Regions from separate parts of the Homo sapiens genome. Here all the other regions are linked to region 1. Evidence: fine-mapped QTL for protein levels in blood plasma. A gene starts in region 1. Each other region holds a variant in brackets. All regions are shown on one strand. Distances are between the middles of the regions.

Evidence for each region. PIP is the chance, under the fine-mapping model, that this variant and not a neighbour inherited with it causes the effect. Protein levels are from antibody-based Olink assays in UK Biobank. Linkage for the fine-mapping came from a reference panel and not from the study's own genotypes, which makes the PIPs less certain.
Region 2: its variant is fine-mapped to the plasma level of the TNFRSF21 protein (UK Biobank, PIP above 0.99).
Region 3: its variant is fine-mapped to the plasma level of the TNFRSF21 protein (UK Biobank, PIP above 0.99). The variant lies in the coding sequence of TNFRSF21. If it changes the protein, the assay may bind it differently, which can mimic a change of level.

What each region holds. Positions count from the first base shown.
Region 1 is chr6:47,306,446-47,314,630 of GRCh38, forward strand. It overlaps TNFRSF21 (TNF receptor superfamily member 21), which reads right to left and starts at 3,460. Exons shown (of 6, transcript NM_014452.5): 1 at 2,971-3,460. The coding sequence starts at 3,066. RefSeq lists enhancers at 2,411-3,133, 3,297-3,476, 3,428-3,722 and a silencer at 2,927-3,156.
Region 2 is chr6:46,653,502-46,661,675 of GRCh38, forward strand. SLC25A27 (solute carrier family 25 member 27) reads left to right here. Exons shown (of 9, transcript NM_004277.5): 2 at 2,342-2,533; 3 at 5,461-5,545. Among named protein-coding and RNA genes, the nearest start is that of SLC25A27, 4.6 kb to the left of the region's middle. The variant C/T (reference allele first, on the strand shown) is at 2,415.
Region 3 is chr6:47,283,187-47,291,371 of GRCh38, forward strand. It overlaps TNFRSF21 (TNF receptor superfamily member 21), which reads right to left. Exons shown (of 6, transcript NM_014452.5): 2 at 2,758-3,409; 3 at 752-1,246. Among named protein-coding and RNA genes, the nearest start is that of TNFRSF21, 23 kb to the right of the region's middle. RefSeq lists an enhancer at 2,049-3,248. The variant C/T (reference allele first, on the strand shown) is at 3,322.

The sequences.
Region 1 (8,185 bases):
CACGTGCAAGCTGTGTGGCCTGGGACAAACCAATGAAGTTCTGGGAGCTTCCATTTTCTCAACTATAAAAAGGAGACAATATCACCTGCTTCACAAAGATGCTATGAATAAATGAGATACTGTATACAAAGCACCTGGCATGTAGCAATTGCTCTCTCTATACATATACAATTGCTATATACATGTGTATATATTATATCATATTGTGTACCTATATATTTGTATTTTTATAAGCTTATAGTAAGCTATTTTTCATGCAGTTAGCCGGTCATGACAAACAAAAAGTCATAACACAAAAATGATGACAATAAATATTATCACACAAAAAGGGAGATATTTGAAAGAAGAGCATTAAAAGACATAATAAATAGAACATTTTACTGGGATTATTACTTTTTAATCTAACTGTAATACGTGGGCAGGCCACTAACTTGCCCACCTCCCCCAGTAGTGTTCTGAGTACCCTGCCACGTGTACCCAGGCTCCAGTACCTGATGTCCGTTATGTTCACATGGCCAAGGATCCCAATGGGATAAATACTTCTTGGAACAGTATCATGAGATCATCATTTTATACATTAACAAAGCCTGTGCTGTGGACTTGGGCATGCAGAATAAGAATGTGAAAGACAAAAGGCATTTCCTCCCCACCCTGGATGGGGATTATAACATAGTCTCTACTGATTCCTGGCACACCCTCCAGTCACCCTTCAGGATGAAGGGCTGAACCTCATGCCATTTCATGAATTTACCTGAAGTCTTTTTAGCATAGCTAGCAGAAGAATAAGGAATCCTGTATTGGTTATCAACTTGAGACTGCTCCTAAGCCCCATTATAAATTTTATCTTTTTCAAAGTAGCCAAACTTAAATTGTCAGGTCTTTAGTTGCAAATCCAGTGCACAATTTTTAGGGTAGGTTGAGTTTGATGACTTATTTTTTATTTTGGTTTTGGAGACAGGGTCTCACTCTGTCACTCAAGCTGGAGTGCCGTGGCATGGTCACAGCTCACTGCAGCCTCAACATCCTGGGCTCAAGCCATCCTCCCACCTCAGCCTCCTGAGTTGCTGGGCATACAGGCGCACACCACCGCCACACCCACCTAATTTCTTGTAGAGATGGGGTCTCACTATGTTGCCCAGGCAAATCTCGAACTCCTGGACTCAAGCAATCCTCCCACCCTGGCCGCCCAAAACGCTGGGATTACAGGCATAAGCCAGGGTGCCTAGCCTGATGATTCAAGAAAAGGAGCTGGGCCCTTTCTCAGTTAGTTAAGGCAACCTACCATTTGATTACATCAAGACCTTTGTTTAATTACCTACCTCATGCTAAAAGGTAAAATAAATGGAGTATTGCACAATGACTTAAGATTTAATCTGGGAATGGACTCTGTGAGGCATATAATAATCAGATGTGTTAGAAGCACCTGAAACATAGTAGTGGATAGTAGTGGATCTAAAGCTGTGAAAAAGGAAATGATGATAGTTCTCACTCCACTGAACTAGGATCAGTGTTCCCATGGACCTAGATGTGTTTCTCTCCACACCAAGACTGTCAATCCAGGTTCATTGTCCCAAGAGACTCCCCGACTACTGCTTACCATCCACCACACTTGTTTCACTTGTTTCAAAGATATAAACCTTGGCCATGCCATTAATAAGTGGGCAGAAAAGAGTTTCTGAAGGGAGACTGGGACTTGCCTCATTATAAATGCTAACAGTAACAAACTTTTATTTAGTCTCTCTCTTCCTCTTAAAACACACACACAAGGAACCAGAGTGTCTGTAGGATGAATTCCCAGGCCATAGCAACTGCAATGTCCTGAGATCTAAGCAGTTCTTGGCTGGCCAGGCGTTAAGCCCTTTTGGGGAAGGAGACAGCAAGCCTGCTTTTCCCTTACACAGCCCTGTCGTGAAAACAAGCTCTTGTTTCTTGGGGGTTTTTTTGTTCGGTTTTTAGCTAAGAATTTCCATCCCTCCTGCAGTGATAAAAGATAGGCAAGGGAAGCTCAAGGGTTTGATCTCAAATTTTCTTCCACCTAACTTGCCCCTTCACCCCAATATTTGGAAATAAAGGGAGGGAATTTGGGGGAAGTTGAGGGTAAGTTTTTGGTCAAGATGATTGACCCGAGATGTGGATGCAGCTTAGACGATGAGGGAGACTGCACCACCCTGCAGGGTCACCTGCCTAGCCACAGGTAAACGAGGGATCGGAAAGACTGTAGAAAATTCATCTTCCTTCACACACATCTCCTTCCCCCTCCCCCCATTCCAGTGCCGGCGCGCTGGCTGGCTGGAAGCCGGCGCTTTGGAGGCGCCGGAGAGTGGGTCTAAGGGTGATATTTCGGCATACAGAACCTGAGACCCCACCCGAGCCAAGAGGGAAGAGAGAGGGTAAAGGGATTGAGGAGGGGGCGGCTTGCGCCCTGCTCGGGAATGCACCGCGCGACAGCACCCGGAGGTCTCCGGTGTCCGGCGCGCACCGGTACCACTGTCTTCCACTGCGGTAGCATCCCGACATGACATTGCAGCTGCAACAAAGCGCCGGCCTCGGCCGGCCGTGGGAGCCCCACACCGCGGCGAGGCCCCACACCACGCAGAGGGGCAGTGGCCGATGGGTGGGGGGCTGTGGCTGCGGGCGTGGGGAGCGCGAGGTAGGCCGAGTAGGGGGAAAAGCCCTCAAATGCGCAGAAGCTGGGCGGCTACCTCTAGCGTCTCCTCCAGCAAAGCCAGACTGCAAGGAAAACAATTCGTCTTCATTCCCCAGCCCCGGCTGAGCCCTGAGATTCCCCCAAATAACCTAGTCGAGGCCCTCTGGTGTGTTGCCTTCCCTTGGAAACCCCTCAGTGCCCGTAACCCAGTCGGCCGGGCCCCGCGCCTCCCTAAGCCCCGGCCCGGTGACCCGCCCGGCTCCCGGAGAGCGGTTCCTTCTGCTCCGGCGCCGCCGCCACCCCCGGTCCACGCAAGCGCTCACCAGGAGAAGGGAGCCCGCGATCATCGTGGCTGTGGCTCGGCGGGCGATGCGGCTGCAGGAGGCGAGGGCGGTGCTGCTGCTCGGAGAGGTCCCCATGGCTGAACCGGGGACTCGCAGGGGCGCCCGGGGCGCGCGGGGCAGCTGGAATCGGCGGCTGCTTCTGCCCAGCGCCGCATCCACCGCCGCCTCCCGGGCCGGGAGCCCATCTACCTCCAACACCCCATGTGCACTGCTGCGGCCGGGCAGAGGAGGGAGGCGGCAAGGGAGGCTCTAGGGGCGCTCAGCACCTGCCCAGCGGCGCGGCCGCCCAGGCGGGGAGAAGCCGCCGCGACTGCAGCCCGCGTCTCCGGGTGCTCTCCTCCGACAGCGGCTGAGGAGAACCAGGGAGGAGGACTGGGCGCGAGAGAGCAAAGGAACGACTTCCCATAGCGAAGCTTCCAGCCACTGCCAACCACCCTCCTCCGCTGCCCAGACTGGTCGGCGAGGGACTGAGTCGGTGGCCACCGGGCGCAGGGACACACGTGGTGGCGCCGAAGGGGCGGGGGACCGGCCCTTTGTGATGTCACCCGGGAGGAGGCCGGGCTCTTTGTGCGGTTGGAAAGGCGAAGGCGTTCCAGGTAGAGCGGGGAGGGAGAGGGTGCCCCTTGGCGTTCGCTGAGGAAATTGCACGCGCCTGTTGACCCAGGGAAAGCGCTGAGAAAGCATCTCACTCCTGATCTAACTTTACTTATTTTTTCCGAGATAATTCCAACTAAATTATTTCAGCTACATACGCCTTTCCATTGTTTCGGACACGATGATTAAATCAGAGAGCGATGGTGAATAGACCACAGAGCACTTAGATCAACTGCGTGACGAAAAAGGAGACCTGTGTGTTGCTTCTCAAACTTTGCTGCCCTGTGGAATCACCTGGAGAGTTCAAAACATATATATTGATTCTTGGGTCCCACCTCTAGAGACTCTGATTTAATTGGAACAGGACAGGATCTGGTCTGGGCATTGAGGTTTGTTGTTGTTGTTGTTTGTTTGTTTTTTAAGTTTTCAGGGTGATTTTAATATGGGGCAAAGATTTTAATTTTTTATATTTTAATTTTAATATGGGCTTATGAATGCAATTAAGGAAATCCAAACTAAAAGGATTTAAAACCCAGAGTCATTGGTGTTGGGTCCATGGATGGTCTTGGAGGGACTTTTGAACTCCTTGAAATGTATCAAAAGATGCATTTTCCTAATTTAAAAATCAAGAGTTTTGAATCGGATTATCCCTGAGATTTTTTTTAATCACCCTTCCCCCAAAAAATAATGCTAAAAATTTTTGAGTTGATTTCCAAAGGCCTTGTCAGGATGTGGGTGGTAGAATAGGTAGTATTCTGCTTCAGAAGGAGAACTGGAATATTCTCGTGGATGTTGGTATCTCACACACTTCTGAATGTAAGAGAGCAGCTGTTATCCTTTTCTTTGTTTCACCTGGGGGAAGGCCGAGTCTCCTGACTGTGGCCACCATTTCTGGTATCGTGTTATCCATCATCTAGGTACTGACAGCACATGGCACACTGTATTGATATTACCTCTTCAGCCATCCAGTCCACACCCCTCAATTGGGAGCCCTATGGTGCTGGGCTTATCCTAGGCTCCTTTGGTCCCATTTCAAAAGAATCACACTTTTTAAACTATCAGTTTCAAGATCCAACACCCAGTGCTAATAAAGGTAACTTGCTAAGTCATAGGTACCAATTATTTGCTTTATTAGTTAACATGTTGTCCTTTGATTCTTTGCTCTATGCACACTTTGGTAGAAGCTAAAATTAATATGAGGGTTAATTCCAATCTATTATTTCAAACATTTGTCAGTATTGTCTATAAATGTTAGAGTGGGAAAAAAGCTACAATATATAACCTCTAGTGAAATTCAAAGGAGTTCTAGAAAATATTACCATTAATTATGGAGTTTTGGGGAAAGGATGATGGTTGGACTTGCCACTCTCTAGCTATTTTCAGAAGTTGAAAGAGTGAGGGATAGATGCTGTGTTTTCATGCATAACTGTATCAATTTTTTCTTCAAAAATTCAAATGACTGGCCAATACTATTATAAGGTTGGGTTGTTTTTTTTTAAGAAGTTACATAGGTATTAAAGAGGAGGAGGAGCTTCAAATACGTTTTTATTTAGTCCATTTTACTCCTTGCATCCAAACTCACATTTTTCGTGGTAATATATGATTGATTTGCTCTAAAGAGTTGGGCAACTTTAGAGTTTAGTGTCTGGGTTACTATGCAGGTATAAGAAGTTCTTCTCAACTATTTGTCTTCCTAAAACTAAAAGAAAATTGTTTATTTGTGCTTGGACCACTTTGAAACTTCATGAATTCCTGGTGTTCCATTGATCATATCAAGTTGAAATTTAATATACATTTTGAGAGATGAAAAAATTTACTCAATTCTGTTTACTACTAACATTTAAATACATGTCCCTCTATAGAGTGATAGATTATAGATAATTTGAATCTAGATGCAGTGTGAAATTTTATTACTTTGAATTGAAATGTATACATGCCTTCCATTTTGAAGTAACAATGCTGCAACCATTAAATAATTCATTGCCACATTTTCAATGTGGTAACTTAGACATGTCTGTTTTCTGGGAAAGGATAAAAATTCAATGATACATAAGGAAGTTTCTCCCAAAGTTCCAAGGAAAGAGGAGATATGTGTTGATAAATCATAATTATAGCTAAATTTTAAAGGAAGGCCTAAATGAGTTAATCCAATGTCATCTTTGCCATAAAAATTACTCTATCTCCACCCTCCATCCTACCTTTGGACTTTCTCTCTTTCTGCCAATGTTGTACAATTTTTCTAGTTTTCCAACCTCAAAAATCATTGCTAATTCTTTCCTCGTCCTTAGTACATTCCAATTAATGCTTTCCTAACCTTTCATTTTTTTCTATTTTATCTTTCTTGTTAAAAATCTGATATATACATCTGGATACTGAAGAAATCACCAGAGATTGCGCCACTGCAGTCCGCAGTCCGACCTGGGCGACAGAGCGAGACTCCGTCTCAAAAAAAAAAAAAAAAAAAAAAAAAGAAATCACCAGATTTACCATCTTGTCTTAATTATTTTTTTAACTTATCCTGCACACTTTCAGAAGGTCTAGTAAAATTTCATGTTCTTTATAATGAAAATAACAATTGTCCACATTTTGAGAAATGACTGCTGCATGACAAACATCCTGAGCCGATCTATGAGGGAATGACAGAAAGTTGGCAGGAAAATGCCAGCTCCGTTGGGGAGACCCTAACCCAGTGGCGCTAGAGGAATTAAAGACACACACACAGAAATATAGAGGTGTGAAGTGGGAAATCAGGGGTCTCACAGCTTTCAGAGCTGAGAGCCCCGAACAGGGATTTACCCACATATTTATTAACAGCAAACCAGTCATTAGCATTGTTTCTATAGATATTCGATTAACTAAAAGCATCCCTTATGGGAAACGAAGGGTGGGCTGAATTAAAGGAATAGGATGGGCTAGTTAACTGCAGCAGGAGCATGTCCTTAAGGCACAGACCGCTCAAGCTATTGTTGGTGGCTTAAGAATGCCTTTAAGTGGTTTTCCGCCCTGGGTGGGCCAGGTGTTCCTTGCCCTCATTCCTGTAAACCTGCAACCTTCCAGCTTGGGCGTTAGGGCCATTATGAACATGTTACAGTGCAAAAGAGATTTTGTTTATGGCCAGTTCTGAGGCCAGTATATGGCCAGATTTTGGGGGGCCTGCTCCCAACATGTCCCCCTTCTCTGATTTGCAAATCGATAAAAGCAAAGGCAGCTTTGTCATGGTGAGCTACTTCTCGCAGGAGTCAGGTTCCACATCTGCAGACTATACAAAGACAAACAACACAGATTAAAAGCACAAACGTCATTGAAATCACAGAGCTTCCAAGTGTTTTTATCCATTGTAATGGGTTACTAGCTGCTAATTTGTCTGTAACTCCTTCAAGCACTCCAGTTCCTGGCATTAAGGTCAGGTGTGCCTGCGATGCTTTAAACATTTGTTCTTTTAATTTTAATTCCTTATGTTAAGCTCCTAGAGCGGGCTATATCATTTGAGGCTGAGGTGCTGCTATACCACCATGGTTCCAGGTAATGGGAACTTTTGCCGTAGTTCTTATCATTTCTACCATCTGACCGTTTTGTTCAGATCATCTGAACATAGTGTGGCCGTGGCATGCAGACTGAGAGGTGCAATTCAAGCTAAACGTCCCCTTAGGGGACGAATTAATAATGATTCCATAGGAATCGTTGTGCAGCACCTCTGCCTGTTCTGCAATGCAATCTTCCTAAACAAGTACGTTCATTTTTTCTAACTGGGTCCAATCCTGTTTACAAATAGGTTTTTGTAAACCTATTCTGCCCCAATTTTTTTTGTAAACCTGATTCTGCCCCAATTTTTTTGTAAACCTGATTCTGCCCCAATTATAGGAACAGAATCAGAAATCACATTAATAGGCATATCAAAAGCAGTCAATACCTCAATTATAGCTACAAGCTCTGCTTTTTGAACTGAAGTATAGGGCATCTGAAAAACTTTACCTTTTGATCCAGAATAAGAAGATTTACCATTACTAGACCCATCTGTAAAACAATGAAAACAGGCTGCATGTTGTTTACTGCAGGAATTGTAAATGCAAACTGTTCACAGTCTTGCTCAGCTAAAGGGATAGTAAAGAAACAATCTTTTAAATCTATGACTATTAAAGCCCAATTTTTTGGAATTATAGCAGGAGAAGGCAATCCTGGCTGTAATGCTCCCATAGGTTATATAACTGAATTGATAGCTCTGAAGTCAGTTAACATTCTCCATTTACCTGATTTTTTCTTAATTACGAAAACTGGAGAATTCCAAGGAGAAAATGCTGGAGCTATGTGCCCATTTTCTAATTGTTCAGTAACTAATTTCTCCAAAGCCTCCAGTTTCTCTTTACTTAGCGGCCATTGTTCTATCCAAATTGGCTTATCTGTTAACCATTCTAAAGGTATAGGTTCTGGAGGCTTAACAATGGCTGCCATCAAAAATGATATCCTAATCTTTGGCGGGAACTTTTTAAACCTTGCAAATTTTTTTTTCTAGTCCTGTTCCGGGTACATACCCCATTTCATGAATCATATGTTGACTTTGAGGGCTATATAATTGTTCTGGAATTAGAATTTGTGCTCCCCA
Region 2 (8,174 bases), 650 kb before region 1:
TTCTAATGCTTCCCTTAGGCATGTGCTGTGGTGCTTGAATGTTGTACTTTAAGAAGCTTCGCGAGCTGTCATTCCTCTGTAGGAATCATTTTCCTTTTCATGAGGATGACCTTTTTAAAAACGTAATCTGTTTTCCATCCTTACTGAGATCATCTCTGTGGTTTATAGTCTTACACAGCCACACTGTCATTATCTTGTGGGTCCAAGTTGTGGACCTACCTTGTGGGACTTCCGTTATTAACCTGCCACTCACAGAGCATCGACTACTTGACCTCTTTGAGTGTAATTCATCTATACTGTTTACCTTGCAGGATTCTGAGAAGTCAATAATATATGATTGCTAAACCCAAGGCAGGACACCCATTAGTTGCGACATTTTTATAATTCCTACAATACCAGGGACTGTGGATATATATTTGAAAAGACCCAGTTCTGACCTTCTTACAGGCTGCTGGGGAGACAGAGAAAGACAATTATAATGTGCTACTTGTTATAATGAAGATATTATTAGGTGTCATAAAAGCATAGAAGAGCAGTTACATCTGCCTACATGAGTAAGAAAAAACTTTAAGAGGCCATCTAGAGTGGAATGATGATGCCCTTGAATGAGCAAGTAGCGTTTATTCCAAGGATTTTGTGAGTAGTATACTCATGTGTTTCCTGTGAAGCCTTAACTGTGTATTTTAAGATTACCCTTACATTTTCTTGCCTGTTACAAAAAAATAAAAAGAACAGTTCTGATGCGTTATCATTTGTAAATGTTAGTTGGTCCTATTTTAAGAGTTTATTTTTTAATTCTAGCATAGCCAGCCATGATCAGTTGTTTCGTGCTCTTCCATTTTTGCCTTTTAGCCCCTCTATTTTTTAATGTCTCTCCTTTCGAAAATGATGGAGAATTTTTACTTTTCATTGTTTTTACTGAAATAAAATTCATCAGCTTAAAAAGATCTAAAAGCAGATTGCTGAATGATATTTCCAGGTTTTATTTTTAATTGATGTGTCCCCCTCTGACTCAATGGCTTTTATACAGGACTATTCCTCGTTAAAAATTCATGGAGAGAATTGTGTGTGGAGAATGGATGGGAATCAAAATGTGGGATGGTTTTAAGTACAAACCACTTCAGGAACCTGAAGCATCATTTAACAAACCAGCGAGAAAACAAAACTTATTTTGAAAGACATAATCTGTGTAATATGGAGAAATCTATTAAGATTTTTCAGGTTTCATATGTCAATAAAATATTGCTTGAAGTCTATGCAAGCTACTTCTGTTCTAGGGAAACTGTCAGCAAGATACTAACTTTTCCAAAAACCAGTGGTAAGATTTAATATTCACTTCCCTTCCCCACATTGTTTTCTCTTGGAAAAGGTATACTAAGGTTTTGTGTCAGGTGGTGGTCATTGAAAAGTCTTATATAATGTAAGTAATGTTCATGAACTTGTCTGAATGTTATTATTTTAATTATTCAGGACGTTTTCTGTATAAGGTTATGAGCTCTATCTTCCTTATGTAGGCCGTTTAGCTTAACTGTATTAAGGTAAAAGGTCTGTATCTAATTTAAAACTTAAAACCAAAAAATTTTTCCAAAATACAGTTAGTACTTGTAAGGAGGCCATGAGTAGGCGATGCATATAATTTAGTGCTGGAAAAATAATTCCATATATGCTTTAATTGAAAGGATATTGAGCTTATGACCCTTGCATATAAAAGACAACATTATAAACTCCATTACATCTTCTGTATCTCAAACATTATGTCAGTCATTCATCTGCATGTGAACATCACCCACGAAATTATAGAGTTCAGCTTCATCTAGCATTTGTTATAGTACATAAGAATATATAGTGCAGTATTCTAATGTTACATTAGATCTCAAATAATCATGGCTGCAGTCAAGAGGATAGCACACAATATGGTACTTTAAATTATTTCCCATTGAAAAGCAAAAATTAATGACTAACAGATATTAAAGTTAAATTTCTGAATAGAAAGAACCCAAGGCTTGTCATTTTAATTTTTATTGTTAATGTTTGTTTTTTTTTTTTTTTTTTTTTTTTTTTTTTTTTTTTTTGCTAGTGATCCAGGATGCTCTTGCGTAGTGATTCTTAAATTTGGGACTGTGTGAGAATCAAGTTTCTAAACCCTCTTCAACCTACTGAATTAGAATCCATGGGCACGGGGCTAGGAAATTTCTAATTTTTAAAATCTCCCTAGCTGATTCTGATATATTCTAAAATTTGAGAACAACCAGTCTTGGGAAAATATTACTCCTATGATTTTAGATTTTTGTTTGTTTCTCTGAATGTTGTGGGTTTTTCCCTGCATTTGTGTTTTTGTTAGCAACCTTTCCCCTGGATCTCACAAAAACTCGACTCCAAATGCAAGGAGAAGCAGCTCTTGCTCGGTTGGGAGA[C/T]GGTGCAAGAGAATCTGCCCCCTATAGGGGAATGGTGCGCACAGCTCTAGGGATCATTGAAGAGGAAGGCTTTCTAAAGCTTTGGCAAGGAGTGACACCCGCCATTTACAGACACGTAGGTATTTATCTTGATTCTAGCTGGTAAGTTTGTTATGAGTTCTGTGTTTGTCTCCTGTGCTTTTCTGTTTGTCCAAAAACAAGTTAGTTTTTTTATCTTACTGATACAATAACTGAACACATACAGCACATAGTCTTTTTTTATTATTATTTAGGTTTTTTTTTTGAGATGGAGTCACACTCTGTCGCCCAGGCTGTAGTGCAGTGGCGCCATCTCAGCTCACTGCAACCTCTGCCTCCCAGGTTCAAGCGATTCTCCTGACTCAGCCTCCTGAGTAGCTGGGACTACAGGTGCACGCCACCACACCCAGCTAATTTTTTTTTTTTTTTTTTTAGAGAGTCTCGCTCTGTTGCCCAGGCTGGAGCACAGTGGTGTGACCCTGGCTCACTGCAACCTTTGTCTCCCGAGTTCAAGCGATTCTCCTGCCTCAGCCTCCTGAGTAGCTAGGATTACAGGCACATGCTACCAAACCTGGCTAATTTTTGTATTTTTAGTAGAGATGGGGTTTCACCATGTTGATCAGACTAGTCTCAAACTCTTGACCTTGTGAAATTTTTGTATTTTTAGTAGAGACGGGGTTTCACCATATTGATCAGGTTGGTCCCAAACTCCTGACCTCAGGTGATCCACCTGACTTGGCCTCCCAAAGTGCTAGGATTACAGGCGTGAGCCGCCGTGCCCAGCCAGAACACATATAGTCTCTTAAGAAGAAAAAAATTAACTACTGATTATTATTAAGAAGTTACTGTCCTAAATTTTTAGAAACGCATACTCACGTATTTAGGGATGAACTGTCATGAAATCTGTAAACCACTTTAAAATATTTAATTAAGCAAAAAACAATGAAGCAAGCCAGATACAGTGGCTTATGCCTATAATCCCAGCAGTTTGGAAAGCCGAGGCGGGATAATTGCTTGAGCCCAGGAGTTCGAGACCAGCCTGAGCAAGATGGCAAGACCCTGTCTCTACAAAGAGTAAGAAAATTAGCCAGGCCTGGTGGCACATGACTGTAGTCCCCACTACTTGGGAGGCTGAGGTGTGAAAACAGCTTGAATCCAGGAATTCAAGGTGGCAGTGAGCTTTGATCCTGCCACTGCTCTCCAGCCTGGGTAACAAAACAAGACCCCATCTCTAAAAATATTAAATTGGGCCGGGTGCTGTGGCTCACACCTATAATCCAGCACTTTGGGAGGCACAGGTGGGTGGATCACCTAAGGTCAGGAGTTCGAGACTAGCCTGGCCAACATGGTGAAACCCTGTCTCTACTAAAAATACAAAAATTAGCCGGGCCTAGTGGCGCATTCCTGTAATCCCAGCTACTCAAGAGGCTAAGGCAGGAAAATCGCTTGAACCCAGGAGGCAGAGGTTGCAGTGAGCCGAGATCATGCCATTGCACTCCAACCTGGGTGACAAGAGCGAAACTCTGTCTCAAAAAAATAAAAAATACAAAATAAATTTAAAAAGTTAGAAAATTAAGGAAATATGGCAAAAATGTTAGCAGTTAATAAATCTCAATGGTAGAGATAGAGGGAGTTACATATTATTTACTTTTCAGTGTTTGAAAATTTTCTTAATAAAAATTTGTATAGGTTTAAGAAAGAAAAAGTGAATAGCTGATTATCATTTTTCTTCACTTAAGAACTTTAAACACAGAATTTAAATTTTTCATATTTTTTGAAAATTAACATATATTTATTACAGTGCCAAATCTCATGAGTCCCTGTCTCATAATCTAAGACCAGGCTACTCTGAAAGAGGACAGAGTTCACTGCCTAATCCAACACTGGCTGTAGTGTAAATGCAACACAGGTGATTTTTGCCCCAGTTCCAAGGCTACCTAACTAGCTATGTGGGCCTTAGTCACCCTTAAAGGAAGATGGTTGCAACTATGCCAGTTAGAACATTTTTCTGCTCTGCTTCCACAGTGGCACTCACAAGAGGAGGACTTGATTTTATAGCTTGTGTACAGGAGAATATAAAGTTGGCTTCAAAGGAGGTAGGATAGGTTTGGCATTTTTCTCCTCATAATGTTTCCTGAAGCATGAAAGGATCCTTGATCAGAAGAGTGCTCAGTTCTAATTTCTAAAATTTGCTGGCTTAATATTTTTAAAGATTCAATTCTCCATATGAGTAAGTTAGCGTGTATCATCAAAAACTATCTAGAACTGTGTGCAGAGACTGTTACTGGTTTTCCAAGTTGTATATTTTTGAGTATCTTAAAATATTTCATCAACTTTCTAAAACATCAAGAAAAGCTCTCTATACAAATACCATGGTTGATTTTAATTATTTTGTTTTCCATCCTTTTAAAAATATTTTCTGCTTTGCATCCCATTATTATTTTGAGTTTCTTTTCATTTGTAGTTTGTTGTTCATTGTGTTGTTTTACAGCTAAGATTCATTTCATACGTTTGATGCTTAGCTGAAAAATTACAATAAATTCTCCAATGAAATTATGTATCTTTATTTAATGAAAATGCCTGCTGCGTACCAAGGTATGTACTAGGGCATCTGGGGTAAGTAAAAACAAACACATAGAGCCTGCCTGGAGAAGCTCATGGTCTGATGGAAAGATAAGCAAGAAGAGTTAATTTCTAATCAATATGATAAAAAGGTCAGAGAGCAGTTTCTGAAAAACATGTTTTTGAGTTGAGTCCTGAAAGACAAGGAGATGTTAGTAAAGCAGAGAAGGGAGAATTCATTCTAGAAAGATCAGACAGTGTGTGGGAAGGGCAGAGTCTGAAAAGAGCATGCCCCATTTGGAGAAGCATCAAGAAGCCCACGTGTTAGAAGCACCGGCCCCATGAGACAAAGACACAGCTAGAGAGATTGACTAGGCCATGTCGGAATGTCCTCTTATTTTATACATACATAAGCATATAGATACATATAGCCAAAGTTACCTTTTTAATGATCTTTTTTACCCAGTGTATTCTGGAGGTCGAATGGTCACATATGAACATCTCCGAGAGGTTGTGTTTGGCAAAAGTGAAGATGAGCATTATCCCCTTTGGTAAGTTTTGTTTGGAAAATAATATGCTGTTGCCCCAAATGCCTTAATGTTTATTAGGTTTATGTAAAATTGTACATTTGTACCCAAATTGCCTTAAGTTATGGACTTAAAATAATAATTACAATATAAGTCCAGATAATTGAGCATTTACTGCAGATGTATACAGACATACATGTATATACATATATAAATTGCATATATAGAGATATTTAGTATTTTACTGTTGAAAGAATTCTTATAGAGTACCTTTTTATTCCTCTTTTTATTAAGAACTCTCGGCTTTAGAGTCAGACAGGGATGGGCTCAAATTCCTGCTCTGCTACTGTATAACCTGGACAAACTGCTTCACCTTTTTTATCTTCAGTTTTCACAGCTATAGAAGTAATACAAACCATTAAGTGTTTTTATAGGACACGGTGAGATGATGAATGTAAGTGTATATTATTTAACGGAAACTGAAAAAATCGGTTACTAAAAATAATATACATAGAGCTCCTATAAATAAATAGAAATATAGAAAACACACGCTGGGCGGGGTGGCTCACGCCTGTAATCCCAGCATTTTGGAAGGCCAAGGTGGGCAGATTACCTGAGGTCAGGAGTTCGAGACCAGCCTGGCCAACATGGCAAAACGCTGTCTCTACTAAAAATACAAAAAATTAGCTGGGTTTGGTGGTGGGGGACTGTAATCCAAGCTACACAGGAGGCTGAGGCAGGAGAATCGCTTGAACCCAGGAGGTGGAGGTTGCAGTGAGCCGAGATTGCACTGTTGCATTCCAGCCTGGGTGACAGAGCAAGGCTCTGTCTCAAAAAATATAAAATAAAAATAAAAAATTGCATATATATATATAATTATATATATAAAATTATATAACCTCTCAGCTGGACCACTGCCATCTAACTCGTCTCCTCCTCCATCCTCAAATGTGTACCCGGTATCCAGAGTGATTTATTTGAAACACAGATATTAACACATTATTGGTGTCCTTAAAACTTGTCACTGGCTTCTAATCACCCACAAAATAAAGTGGAGATTTTGGAATGTGACTTAGAAGATCTGCAATATCTGGCCTGTGTCTTCAGAGAACTAAGCAATTCATTGATTCTCTTGGAAAGAGTGGTGCACTAATGAGCTGAAAGATTCCACTGCCTGCACATACCAAACTGTTCTTCACCTCTGTGTCTGTGTGTGTGTGTGTGTGTGTGTATAGAGAGAGAGAGAGAAAGCACAATAGAAAAATAAGGAAAGGATACCAATAGGCAGTTCACAAAAGAAATATACATGTTCATTAAACATAAAAATGTTCAAACTCACCAATAATCAGGGAAATTAATTAAAACTAACTTTAAGCTGTTAGTGGAAATATAAGTTACTATAGTCTTTTTGGAGCATAAATTACTTGTTAACATTTTTGAACGTGTAACCCCTTTGTGATTATAATCATTTATAAATGCTTCTACATATGCATTAAGACAGACACAAAGATATTGACTGTAGCAGTGTTGATGATAGAAAATTATTTTTTTAATTTAAACTATTGATTTGGAAGCAGTTAAGTAGGTTATGATATATTTATGGCATAACACAGCTATTGAAAGCATGAGGTGGGTTTCATATGACTAACATGGAAAGATGCCTATAAAATCTTTCTTAGGGTTAAAAAAATCTAAGTCACAGCTATAAAAAGGGGCAATATGTAGAGTTTCACCTTTCAGGCAACATTTCTTTATCTTGTTTTTGAAAAATTGTAATGTACTAAGCTATACTAATTGCTTTCCCAGAGTCAATTATGGAATAGATTTATAGTCCTTGCGTTTTGGAATTTCTTCCAGAAGGGAAAGGTTTAAGTAAAAAGTGCAAAGGAAATATTATACCAGAACTTTTAGGGTGGATAGGTTTAATGTCCTTTTGACCCAATCAGAACAATTCATTCAGTCAGTAGGTATTTATTGGGTAATTATGGTATGGTATGCCAGTCTTATACTTAATACTGAGGCTATAGTAATGAAAAAGAAACAGTCCTGCCGTCATTCAGCTTACAGTAACAGAGTCGATGAATAAACAATTAGAATTATGTAAAAAATACAGAGAAAAGAGTGGTTATGAGAGATGCAAAGAGAAAAAATATGATAATGTATGTGCTCATCATTGTGTGGAGAAACAGGTATGAGAGATGCAAAGAGAAAAAATATGATAATGTATGTGCTCATCATTGTGTGGAGAAACAGGCATTTTCACAGGTTGTTGGTGGAAGTGCAAATTGATAAAGGTTTTCTGGAAAGCAATTTGACAGGCTCTAGCAAATGTTATGTAAATGTTCAAATTTCTTAAAGTTATGTTCGTTAAATAAATTATGGCATATCCATAAAATGAAATACTGTCAAACTATTAAAAAGAATGAGGCTGCTCTATATGACCTGATAGGGATAGCCTTTAAGATATGCTGTTAAGAAAACAGTGCAGAACACTGTACAACTTGACATTCTATGTTAGCGCTTTTACAAAGGAACATTTATACAGATATGCTTGTGTATGCACAAACTGTCAGTCATAACTTAGTGTTTAAGACTGTGGGCTCTGCATGCAGGCTGTCTGGATTCACATCTTGGCTGTCCCACTGATTAGTTG
Region 3 (8,185 bases), 23 kb before region 1:
GTCTTCAGATCAAACTTAGCTCTGGGACAAGTTCTATAAGCTATTTTTTGCCCTCAAAAGAGGAAAGGCCAAAATATTCCAGCCTGTATTCAACACATGCTGACTACCAGGAAAGAGATGTAATGCTGAGGCTCAGATGATGACCGACATATTATGCTTCTGGGGTCTACAATCCAAAAGACCATCCTACCCTCCTGATAGACATGGGATCCTAAAATTTAAGTGGGGAAAATATATATGTGACGAAATTGTTAGGAATCTAAAAGCAAGGTTCTGACTGAAAATGGCAAACTTATGACAAGTTGGGTTTTGTCCCCTTCATTTGCTTCACAGCCTAATCGTATAGCAAAAGCAAGTGCTCCAACAGTCAGGAGTCTCGTCCCATCTGTCCTCAAAAACAACTAGCCTCTTGTTTGGATCAATGTTGCCAAACCTCTCTAAACTCAAATTTCTCATTTGTTAAATGACAAGGTCAAACAAAGTCCCTAGGAGTCAATCAGGTCTCTGATTCCACAACATTCTTCTGTTTTAAAGGTACCAGGGGAAAAGGAGGAAGAGAGATTATTCTCTCTGAATGCATTACTTCTAATGAGACGGTCAATCTCTTTTTCTATAACACGACTAGATCAAGTAGTGTTTGGTCTACAAAGGAGATTCCACAAACTACGCATTCCCATTCCTTCAGAAAACAGGGACTAGGGAAAAAGTGGTAGAGAGATCTGTGAGCAAGGAGAGAAGAGAGAAGGCTCACCATGGCCATTGCAGTAGTAGATCCATTTCTCCCGGTTCTGGGTTGGAGTCATGGATTTCTTCAGCCCTGCCTTTTCCACAATGGCACTGGGATCCTGCCGGGGCCCCTTTTTCAGAGTCCTCGAGCTTTTCCGGATACTGCACACCACAATCACCACAAGCACCAGCAGCAGGAAAAGCACAATCATCCAGGGCAAATGCTCATTGATGTCAAAATGCTTGTGTAGGTTCTGTCTAGGATGTCCCCTCTTGGGGCCCTTGATGGGCGTGCTGGACTTCTCGCCCCCAGTGGCCTCCATGGACGGCAGCAGCTTCAGGATGTGTCTGTGGTGGGGGCCTTGCTGGTGGTTGACTACCTGAAGGTTTGGGAGGGTCTTGTTCACGTCTTCCTTCCCCCTTGCTGAGCTTGTGTTGTCAGGGACTGTCCCTTCCTGGATGCTACTCAGTACCTTTGGTCTAACAGAGGCAGAAGAGTTGGATTCTGTTGAGTTCATGCCTAGAAAAAAGAGTAAGGAGGGGGGAAGAGCTTTTCCATATTTGGGGATCTATACATTCCCTCCTTTCCCTGGTCATCTCCAAGCTAGGCCAGATAATCAAAGATAAGATGACCCTTGGGGCTTAAGAATAAATTGTGTTGCACATTTTCATAAAGACCCTAATGGCACCTTCATGTGGAAGGCAAAAATGGAACTGAACCACTAAACTCACATTCTTACACCAAAACCAAGGGCAACCTTAAGGATCCAACAGCTGAGCTTGACAGCAGCTTCTCCTGTACTTCACATATTGAGCAGGCACATATATGTGCAGAGATCTAATCAATTCTTATTTTGAGTTTTCAGAGAACCAGTTCAAATTTAATTATTTTGTCCATCCTCCTTCTCCCACCTTTTGACTATTTTATGATGCAGTGGTAAAACTGAGAATATGACTAAGATAAAAAAAAGAATTCAAATGCAAATTTGACTGGTGAAAGACTTGGTAGGACAGGTCAGCAAATAAGAGCATCTGTTATCAAAAGATTAAACAAGATTTGGGCTGGCAGCTTAGCAGACTTCTCTCAGAGAAGCCTCCATAAGTAATTTTCATTAAGAAGTATGAGAGATGGGAATTTTGAGTCCCAAGAGACAGGACTTGGCCTAAGCAAAGCTAGAGTGGCCATCTGAGCTCTTGGAGGCTGTTTCTTCATTTCAACTGGCAATTGTAAGATGGCTGTCTTCACAGGCTTATCATGAAGGCTAAATGTAATCATGCATGAGAGGACACTAGGAGGAACAACTCAAGTTGGTCATCATCTCATGAAAATTACATTAAATCAAAAAGGATTTGAAAATAAAGGATAAATTTTATATTCTGCTTGAGGTTCTGATGGAAAACTTGAATAATTGATATAAGGAGTAAAGTTAAAATCATTTGGAAAAAATAAAGTTATTATTTTCCAGACATGAGTGCTAGTTACCTTCAATCTGATACAAATTTGCTTATTTCCTGAGCTTCTAACTTTCCTACCCATTCTTTGCCCCACCTGGATTCAAAATTCATCTCTCGCTTCCGGATGTAATGGTATTTTCTTCCTTTCTCCCTCTTCTCTGCTCCTGGCTATGTCTACCTGGGACTGACTCCATGTTGGAAAACTTTTGATCTGGAAGGAACCTTAAACATCTAAATTATTCATTTGTTTGACAAGTTTGAAACTGAGGCCTGAAGAGGTTAAGTAACTTACATAAGGTCACACGCTGTCCTTGTTTCTCTTGGTTCATATTTTATAGCTTGATGTGACCTAGTTTTTAGATATCTGATCTCCCCTAACAGAAAAATTCTGAGTCTACATGTTTCTATTAAGTCCAAAAAAGCCAGATTTAATTAGCCACCATATGAAGGCCTCTCTCCAAGGGGTGACTTTGGAATACACGAAATGGAGAAAACATCTTTGGTATAAGCCCACTCTTGGTACCTCCACTGGGCTCAAAGCCTTCCTCAAATAAATAATTCATGAGGTTAAGTTACCTTTGGGAACATAAGTGGAGGAAGGGACTTCATGGGTTTCCATGTGCTCAGGGCGTGGAAAGATGGCTGTGCCAGGGGAAGGTGAGGTGGAGCTGGAGAAGGACGGGAGTGTGCCACAGACGTTGTCTGTCTCCTTGGTCCCCGGCTTGATCACCACCAGGTTCTGACTCAGACAGTCTGTGTATGCTTTGCATTTCATCACACTAGAAGGCACATCTGAGAAGGTACCCCGAGCACACTGCTTACACCGCACATCCTCAGTCTCTGTCCCTTTCTTCCGCACACCCCAACCCACAGGACACACCGTATGGGGGGCACAGGTAGCGTTAGACTGGAACATGCCAGGTGGGCAAGTGCATTCTCGGTCAGTCAAGGCAGCACAAGGTAATTTCTCAATCATTGGCCATGGGCATGGCTGACTACAGTCATGGCATTTCTCTATGCCATTCTCATGCCTGGTAAAGGTCCCCACAGGGCAACTGCTGCAGACGCGCAGGCTTGTGTTGGTACAATGCTCAGAGACATAGGTTCCTGCTGGACACTTGTCACAGGTTAGCACCTGGC[C/T]GGTGGCACGGTCAACATGGCGGTATGTGCCAATGAGATTCGAGGCCTTCTGTTCTGGCTGAGCTGTGGTGGTGCTAAGGAATCCAAGCTGAAAGAAACAGAAGGGGAGGGAAAGGAACAAAAACCAAGAAGATGTTACATAGGAGCAGAGCAGAAAAAGGGCCAACAATTCCAGCACCACCATCATCATTCCTGTTAAAGATCCGACCAGGACTGCATCCTCTTGACAGCATGCTGCAACACAGTAGAACGAGAGAAACGAAGACTTGGATCCCACCCTACAGCTTGATCTACTGGCTGTGATGCTTTGGTTTCACTGCCTGACCTTTGCCTCAGCTTCCTTTTTTTCCATTTGTAAAATGAAACTGACAATGCATCTCAAATTGATTATAAAAATCAGTTGAGAATATGTATGTGAAAACACTTTGTAGCTGAGATTTAAAATGTTATATATGGCTGGGCGCACTGGCTCACACCTGTAATTTTTGCATTTGCAAAATTTGCAATTTGCAAAATTTGCCTTACATCACATCTGTAATTTTTGCACACCTGCATTTTTAGAGGCTAAGGCACGCAGATCACCTGAGGTCAGGTGTTCGAGACCAGCCTGGCTGACATGGTAAAACCCCATCTCTACGAAAAATAAGAAATTAACTAGGCTTGGTGGTGCATGCCTGTAATCCCAGCTACTCAGGAGACTGAGGCATGATAATCGCTTGAACCCAGGAGGTGGAGGTTGCAATGAGCCAAGATCAAACCATTGCACTCCAGCCTGGGTGACAAGAGTGAAACTCTTTCTCAAAAAAAAAAAAAAAAAAAAAAAAAAAGAAAAGAAAAATTGTATACTAGTCAAAATCCAAATGCAACAGGAAAATAACTTGCTGACTTTTTAACATTGGGTATTTTATTCATTTAAGGATAAGGGAGCTAATTAAAAAAAAAACTTGCCCTGTTCTTGTCTTTAGAAGATGTATTTTAATAAAAAATGTACTCTTTCTATTTAAGAATTATTTATCACAGATTTGTAAAATACTTTGTTTAGCTTAGTTCTATACTATAAAACTGAAATGGTAACTAAACCTGTAAGAAATCAGTTGAAATTTACATTTCAAATTTATACACATATTTTGTGGCTCAAGTCATGTATGCTACTCTTATAACTGACAAAGGGGTTGTGGACAGAATATGTAAAGGACTCCTAGAAAATCAACACAAGATAAAAATGGGTGAAAAACTTGAGCAGGCATTTTATAAAAGTGAATATTCAAATAGCCAATAAAGGACAAAAACGTAAAACTTCATTATTAATTAAGGAAATGCATATTAAAACCATATTGAAATAGTACTATATACTCCAGAATGGCTAAAGTTAAAAAGACTATCTGATAAAATTAAGTCTTGGTGAGTATGAGAAGCAACTGGAATTCTCATACATTTCTGATAAAGGCATAAATTGCAACACACACTTTGAAAGCTGGTTGGTACTCTTTACAGAAGTTGAAAATGTATACGCTATGACCCAGAAATCCTACTCCTAGTATATACACACATGCCTAATGGAAATGTGTATATATGTGCACCAGAAGGTATGCAACAACGCTTATAGCAAAACTATTTAAAACATTCCCAAGGTGGAAACAGCACACGTTTGTTGGCAGAAAGGATAAATAATTGTCATTTGGTCATATAATGCATTATACAACAATGAAAATGAACTAATACAGCTCCACATAGTAACATGGATAAATCTTACAAACGTAATGTTGAGTAAAGGAAGTCAGGCACAAAATGTACACATTGTATCATTCCAACTGCTTGTTTGAAAACAGAGCTAATCTCTGTGTTACACTGCTTTGGAGAGTGGAGAGAAGGTACAGTGATTAGAGGAGGGCATGAGGGGTGAGTTCTAGGGTGTTGGCAACGCTCCGTAACTTGATCTGGATGCTGGTTACTGGAGTGTGTTTGCTTTGTCACAGATCGTTGAGCTGTACACATAAAATCTGTATACCCTTTTTAGTGTCTCTAAGTAAATAAATAAATAAAAATAAAGCGGTAGAAACAAACATAAAAAAAAAAAAGAAAAAGAAAATAACTTGCTGAATAGTTCTCTTCCTTTCCCCAACCCCAATGTTAAGCTGCCATTTCATGATGCTAGGACAAGGCAACTGGGAACCAGGAAGGCATGCATTCAAGCTGCCAGTTCCATGCACCAGATTGCCTGCTTGGCATTACCTGACAGTCATGGCCTGATTTTTTCAGACGCTTTGCCTACATGAAGCTAAACTTTTATTTATTTGTCAAAACAGAGGCGGGCCCTTGGCATTTTTGTAATGTGCTTTAAACAACAGAGTTGATGCTTTCAGATTCACACCCTGTTTGCTCAGCCTTTGAAGACCATAGCTACGAAAGCATGGGCCTGCAGCCACCCAGGAGAGGAAGCACAAAGCTAGACCCAGCAAGAGGGAATCAACAGGCACTTAGGGGAAAGGAAATTATATTCATGGGACTAAATCCTGAGGTCCTTCTGAGAAGAGACTGGGGGAGAATAAGAATATTAAGAGAAAGTTTTTCTGCATTAATGAATATTGAAAAGTTCCAACAGTTTTCACTATCCTTTATGAAATGCACAAAGTTTATGTGTCAAGGAAATAATGGCTGCCTCAAACTACCAGCTACTCAGCAGGGCAAATTCCTTCTAAATTGGCTGCTATACCAGTGACTAAGAGAATAAATCAAGAATTTTTTTCACAGTGATCAGAGTTTCTGTCTTTTTAGCACCTTGACACTTAATTCAAGGTTCAATTCTCTCCTACCCCAAAATTTAACTATTTGAATCAAAAGTATTTCCCTGAAGTCCCTTCCCCTGTCCCAGAGCTGCCTATCTAGTTAAATAACAATACAGAAAACAAATTTTCAGCTTATGAGGGTATATTCATTTTTTCTGTCGAGACCCTCCCCCAACAAAAAAAGGACAGTTGTTGATTCTTTTGTTAAGAAACTTAACCTCATCTTAGAACCTGGAAAAAACCTCCTGCTTGATGATAAATTCTGTAATGTCTTCCCTTATCCCTTCTGACTTTACCTTTCATTTTCTTGTTCCTTCTATTTGAAAATAAGCCTCAGACACCTTTTTCTGAGCACAGCGGATGCACTGGATAAAAGGACCCATCCTGTGGAACCCAAGTTACATTTGTCAAGAATACCAGCCGGGCACGGTGGCTCATGCCTGTAATCCCAGAACTTTGGAAGGCCAAGGTGGGCAGGTCATTTGAGGTCAGGAGTTCAAGACCAGCTTGGTCAACATGGTGAAATCCCGTCTCTACTAAAAATACAAAAATTAGCCAGATGTGGTGGAGCATGCCTGTAATCCCAGCTACTTGGGAGGCAGAGGTGGGAGAATTGCTTGAGCCTGGGAGGCGGAGGTTGCAGTGAGCCGAGATTGCGCCACTTTACTCCACCCTGGGCGACAGAGTGAGACTCCATCTCAAAAAAAAGAAAAAGAAACAAAAGAGTATCAACGACAGGATTAGACCCTATCTCCCTACTAAACACCCAACCCAAGAGGTTGCAAAAGTGGCTCTGCTCTGTACTTCGTGGCATGTCTACATGCAAAAGCAGTTTTAGACAGCTACAGTGTTCTGAAAGTTTGAAAGCTGTATTAGTAACCCAAGTGGCAGGTTGTTACACTTCAATTAAGAAAGAAGAGAACTGAACCCAAGATCTGGGCAGGGAGCGGTGGTCGGCGATGAATATCACTCTGATGTGCTGTGTGATCTAAGTCAGCCTCCCTACCTGTGTGGGAGGATGGGCAGTCAGACACACCCACACACACACTCACAAGGGTGGCTCTGCAGAATGAGCACAGGAGGTCATGAATAGCAAGTATGTGTGGATTTGGGTGTGGAGTTGGGGTAGGCTTCCTACAGCTTTCTATACTTCCCCCGAAATATGCACTTCTAAATCTAAAGTAAAACCAAAAAAGGTTTTCCTAGCTATACATAAAACCCACCTCCAAACCCCACAGCCCCAACACTCTTTCTCAGACTGTAAGTGGATTTTAGAGCTCTTTGTTCATTTGGAATAACAGATCAAGTTTCTAATTAAAGCAAAACTCGGCCCTGTTTAAACTGTTTCATACTGGGTAACCCACTTTAGACAATGTGTCTCTAAAAAAGGACCTTTAAATTACCTCATACAACAAGAGACAATTCCAGCTCCCGCAAGCAGAGCCAACAAACAATGATCCCTCCACAGTCGGGCCCAGGCTGAACACTAGAAATGAGATTTAGCAAAAACTAGACACTATGAATTCACTGGACAAATAATTATTGAAGACCTAATAGGTGTGTGCAAGACAGCATGCCATGGGCTGAGGATAGAATCTTGAGAACTCTATTCCAGCCCTTATGAAGTTTACATTCTAGGCTGGGATGAACAAAAAAAGAATACACCAGTAATTACTCAATTAGAATTGAAATCACTGCTGAGAAAGAGAAATACAGAATCCTATGAGAGGGAATTGAACAGGTGCTTCCTAGCTCAGGGAAGTTAGAGAAACATTTTGTCACCACTCTTAAGGATGGAGAGGCAGAAATTAACTCCAGGCAAGAAGCAGTGAAAGAGGGTTAGGCAGAGGGAACACCAGATCAAAAGTGTGAAGCAGAAGGAAGCTCAGCACAGGAACTAAAAAGCTTGTGGCTCTATCTCAAGATGCAACAGAGTGGCCACAGTTACATCTGAAGAGTCTCCATGTGCTGATCTTAATTCAAAATGCAATGAGAAGTCATTAAATGTTTACATGATAGGTTGGGGGAGAAGGCATATAATTGCACCTGTGAATCAAAAAGCTGTCTGCTTCAGAGCA